2 separate regions of the Homo sapiens genome follow, and region 2 is linked to region 1. Evidence: fine-mapped expression QTL. Tissue or cell type: naive CD4 T cells. Region 1 holds a variant in brackets; the other region holds the start of a gene. All regions are shown on one strand. Distances are between the middles of the regions.

Region 1 (2,756 bases):
CAGCTACTTGGGAGGCTGAGGCAGGAGAATCGCTTGAACCTGGGAGGCGGAGGTTGCAGTGAGCCAAGATGACACCGCAGCACTCCAGCCTGGGCAACAAGAGTGGAACTCTGTTTAAAAAAAAAAAAAAAAAGTAGCTTGGCATCTTGGAGGAAAAGTACAAATTGGAAAGGCCTTTTTAGACTCAAATACATATTTTTAGGGGAAATATGTTTGGTACTGAATAAAGGTCATTTCATTTCTTAAAAAAAAACAGTAGGTTGAGTAAATTAAGTTATCCTTTGTTCAGAAGTTCTTTGCCATTATCCACAGGCAGAAAATCTGGTAATTAAACTGGGGGTATGACTACAAGATTTTCTTAGACCAGTAAGGAAATAACAAATCTCAATGTGCCTGGTGTGTTGTCGACACTCAAGATACTGGTTAGTCTGCATCTCACGAGTTGACAGGGGGCATCGAGGCTGTCTTGTTAGGGGGAGTTTGCAGCCTTCTGCATCTGGGAACAGTGTGTGTCTCTAAAGCCAACTGGGGAGAGAGCTTCTGAGGACAAATGGTCCTGAGGCAGTTTCTGGAAAACCCATTATTGAAGCCATAGGCTGTGGTCTAAGTACGCATAGCCAGTGGGATAATGTTATATTGCAGAGTTATTTGAGTAGTTCAATTTAAGGAAGGTGCTTTGTTTAGAAGTTATTATAAGTTAAATAAGGAAGTAACCTTCAGTTTGCAACTAAAAATAGAAACTGCCACCACCATTTGAGTGTCAGTTGCAGCAGAAAAGAAGAAGGTGTAAAACCACAGACCCAGCCTAGATTCTTAACAAAAACCAGTGGTTCTAAACTCTTGTCAGATCTATTACCCTTTGCATAACTAATATTTTATAATACCTCTTTTATAATGCTGAGGTGAAATTCATAGATAATTCACACAATTTCAAAGAAAATATAATGATCCAATATAAATGACAAAGGAAAAATACGAATACATTTCCATATATAAGTGCTGGCTGGGCATGGTGGCTCGCACCTGTAATCCCGGCACTTTGGGAGGCTGAGGCGGGCAGAACACTTGAGGTCAGGAGTTTAGGATGAGCCTGGCCAACATGGAGAAACCCGTCTCTACAGAAAATTTTTAAAACGTTAACTGGGGCGGGGCGCAGTGGCTTACACCTGTAATCACAGCACTTTGGGAGGCTGAGGCAAGTGGATCACTCGCCATCCTGGCCAACATGGTGAAACCCCATCTCTACTAAAAATACGAAATTAGTACAAGATAGAAAAATTAGTCAGCTGTGGTGGCACCCACCTGGGTCCCAGCTACTCAGGAGGCTGAGGCGGGAAAATTGCTTGAACCTGGGAGGTGGATCTTGCAGTAAGCTGAGATCATGCCACTGCACTCCAGCCTGGGCAACAGAGGGAGACTCCGTCTCAAAAAAAAAAAAAAAAATGAAAAAATAAAAAGTTATCTGGGCATGGTGGCACACACCTGTAGTCCCAGCTACTGAGGAGGCTGAGGCAGGAAGATTGCTTAAGCC[A/T]TGGAGGTTGAGGCTGCAGTGAGCCATGATCATTCCACTGCACTCCAGCCTGGGTGACAGAGTGAGACCCTGTCTAAAAAAAAATAAAAAGTAAATTCTCAGGCATAGCTACATAAAAGAAATAATGAAGTAGTTAGATGCTTGTACCTATACATAGAATCACCTTGAATATGACAGCTCCAAATGCGTACTGATACAGTTGTGTTGTCTTGACAACTCAGATACCATGGCTGACTGCTGTCAGTCATGATTTTTCTGAAAGTGGTAAGCAACTCTTGGTAAAAATTTCAAACAAACAATTAGAATCTTTTTTTTTTTTTGGACAGGGTCTCAGTCTGTTGCCCAGCCTGGAGAACTTTTTTATTTACTCAGTTGTGATCCTGGGAAATGTAAGTATATTAATATGCAGAAAAGTATTTGTTTGATATGTAAAACCAAGTTACAGTCTAGGCTCAGATAATCATAAATAGTTTTTTCCACCTTCATGAATGTCCAGCAGGATGTTTGTAATGTGAAGCAATTCTTGTTAAGAATCCCACTCTGCACAGTGGCCCGTGCATGCTCATATCAGTAATACTCCTGATCAGTATGATAACCAAAAATGGCCCCAGAGATTTCAGTGCACCCGCTGAGAACTGCTGACAGATCAAATGACTCTGGGACACCTGGAGTCCTAAGAAGTGAAACCTCCACAATGCAGGACAGACCTGGCTCCCTATGGTCTTCCTTCCTTCCTTCACCTCCTTCCCCCTACTTTCCTTACCTCCCTACTAAAAAGTAGTTCTTTTAATGAACTGCTACTGTATGTTAGGCAATTTACATTCTTGCATATTCTATACAAGTAATGTCTCTTTCTCAGTCACGTTACAACTGAGGCTAGATTCAACAGACTATCCTGATATCAACGTTGAAAGACTCCTGGTTCCAAAGAGTTTTATAGCATTGGTGTTAGACAATCCTCTTTTGGTTTTTTTAAAGAAAATTTAAAAAAATTAATTCAGCATAATTTCCATAAGGACTCCCTGGCTGCTGCTGGCCAAATTGGGGAGGAGTCCCTGGCAGCCACAGCCAGGCACTGGTGCCTTATCTTGTTCAGCACACACTGGGTCTCTCTCCCTAGTTCCAGGCCCCTTGCCCTCGCTTCTCTACTCATCTGGGATAGAAATGCACCTCCAGGCCTCTGAAGAGAAACTACCTTTTCCCTCTTTCAGCCAAAAGGGCTCAA
Region 2 (2,500 bases), 88 kb before region 1:
TGCAATTCTCCTGCCTCAGCCTCCCGAGAAGCTGGGACTACAGGGTCGTGCCACCACGCCCAGCTAATTTTTGTATTTTTTTTAGTAGAGACGAGGTTTCACCATGTTGGCCAGGATGGTCTCTATCGCTTGACCTCGTGATCCACCCGCCTCGGCCTCCCAAAGTGCTGGGATAACAGGTGTGAGCCACTGAGCCCAGCCCCTGGAAAGCCTCAGCTTTGATGCAGGGTTAACATTTGCCTTTGGGACATATTTCGTCAGCATCTCAAAGAGTAACCCATATGTCCTTGAGCAGATGGGAATGCAACAGCCTTCTGGCCGGAACCTGTCTCTTTCTTTCTTTCTTTCTTTTGAGACGGAGTTTCGCTCTTGTTGCCCAGGCTGGAGTGTAATGGCACGATCTCGGCTCACCGCAACTCCGCCTCCCGGGTTCAAGCGATTCTCCTGCCTCAGCCTCCCGAATAGCTAAGACTCCAGGTGCGCGCCACTACGCCCGGTTAATTTTGCATTTTTAGTAGAGACGGGGTTTCTCCATGTTGGTCAGGCTGGTCTCGAACTCCCGACCTCAGGTGATCCGCCCGCCTCGGCCTCCCAAAGTGCTGGGATTACAGGCGTGAGCCACCACGCCCGGCCACTTGTCTCTTTTTTATGCAAGTGTTTTTTGGAATTTGGGGGTTCAGGTGAGCAGGTGCTCTGCTGCTGGTAACTACTCGCAGTTAAAGATCTTTTGACTCTTTCCCCGACACGCTATTTGTCAGTGTCGTTTTCCACCACAGAGCCAGGTATTTGCCCCGCCGGCCACGGTGAGGCGCGCGAGGCGTGTGCTGCCAGCTTCTCTCTTCCTTCCCCGGTCCGCCTTCGCGCCCTTAAGGAGACAGTCCCTGGGAGTTTCTGCCTTTGGTCTCCAGTTATTGTTCTCTTCTCGCGAGAACTGCTCCTCCCATCCTCTTCTCTCACGAAGCCCCGCCCGCGGAGAGGTTCCATATTGGGTAAAATCTCGGCTCTCGGAGAGTCCCGGGAGCTGTTCTCGCGAGAGTACTGCGGGAGGCTCCCGTTTGCTGGCTCTTGGAACCGCGACCACTGGAGCCTTAGCGGGCGCAGCAGCTGGAACGGGAGTACTGCGACGCAGCCCGGAGTCGGCCTTGTAGGGGCGAAGGTGCAGGGAGATCGCGGCGGGCGCAGTCTTGAGCGCCGGAGCGCGTCCCTGCCCTTAGCGGGGCTTGCCCCAGTCGCAGGGGCACATCCAGCCGCTGCGGCTGACAGCAGCCGCGCGCGCGGGAGTCTGCGGGGTCGCGGCAGCCGCACCTGCGCGGGCGACCAGCGCAAGGTCCCCGCCCGGCTGGGCGGGCAGCAAGGGCCGGGGAGAGGGTGCGGGTGCAGGCGGGGGCCCCACAGGGCCACCTTCTTGCCCGGCGGCTGCCGCTGGAAAATGTCTCAGGAGAGGCCCACGTTCTACCGGCAGGAGCTGAACAAGACAATCTGGGAGGTGCCCGAGCGTTACCAGAACCTGTCTCCAGTGGGCTCTGGCGCCTATGGCTCTGTGTGGTGAGTGTCGCTGGGCCTGGGGCCGCTGTGGGCAGGGTGGCCCCTCGCGCCCGAGGGCCAGGCCTGCTCCACTGCTCAGCGTTGCGTCAAGTGGCAGGAATTTTCCTCGGGGGAGGGCATTGCTGCCCCTTCGAGCTCTGCCCGTTCTGCACCTCCAGCACCCCTCGCCCTGCACTCACGCAGGTATGCGGTCCACCGTGTGCAGCACTCAGGTCCGCTGCGAGAGGTAGGTGGTGGTGCTGGAGCTCGGTTCTGGCTAGCACCCTGCGCCTTCCCCTCTCGGAGGGTTGCTGCTCGGCAACAGGCACCGGGGGAAGGGCCGCTTCCTTGGGGGTCTCCCTGCCTACCTGGAGCAGAAGGACCCTCTCCCGTGATGCGCCCACGCTGGGGCTCCGGACCCTGGGTCCTCTGAGCAGACAAGCTCGGGGAACTGCCGGGAGAAGCAGAAGGGCACAGCCCAACCCGAAGACTGCGGTCATCTGAACAAAACTGACCAGGAAGGGAGCTCTCTCCGGGCCTTTTTTTTTTTTTTTTTTTTTCAAAACTCTGTCGAAATCCCATCTTGAAAAGCGTTCTTTTTGAATTCGCACTTGAATTAACAGCGATCCATAGAGCTTAAAATACCGACTTTATCTCGGTGAGCACTGTGCCAGCTTGAGTGGTGTGTTTCCGATTCGGTTGAAAGCGTATTTCCTTTCCGTGGAGGGGCGGCGGTGGTAGTGCCTGCAAGAACACTGCAGCTTGAGAAACTGGCAGGCTCACTGATTAGTCACATACCACTGCTCATTTAAGTATTGTTCGACAAAACAATTTTCTCATTTGGAGCAAGAAAGATTCAGATCTGTAAGGCGCCCTCAAGATCAAAAAGTTATTAACAGTGCTGGGAGGTATTGTAAATATTTTTTGAGATAATTCCTGCGAATACTGTGTTTTAAAAGTCCCTTAGAGAGCTTGC

Direction of the effects. Alleles are on the strand shown, and positions count from the first base shown. SD is a standard deviation of normalised expression in the study named.
In carriers of allele A in region 1, the expression in naive CD4 T cells of the gene that starts at base 1,080 in region 2 tends to be higher than with T alone (large effect, 0.82 SD a copy in Schmiedel 2018).

The links. PIP is the estimated chance that this variant, and not a neighbour inherited with it, causes the effect.
Region 2: MAPK14 starts here. The variant in region 1 is fine-mapped to the expression of MAPK14 in naive CD4 T cells (Schmiedel 2018, PIP 0.93).

Annotation. Positions count from the first base shown.
Region 1 is chr6:36,114,502-36,117,257 of GRCh38, forward strand. It overlaps a transcript of MAPK14 not described here. Among named protein-coding and RNA genes, the nearest start is that of MAPK13, 15 kb to the right of the region's middle. RefSeq lists an enhancer at 737-816. The variant A/T (reference allele first, on the strand shown) is at 1,532.
Region 2 is chr6:36,026,729-36,029,228 of GRCh38, forward strand. It overlaps MAPK14 (mitogen-activated protein kinase 14), which reads left to right and starts at 1,080. Exons shown (of 12, transcript NM_139012.3): 1 at 1,080-1,545. The coding sequence starts at 1,430. RefSeq lists an enhancer at 691-1,130 and a silencer at 1,321-1,420.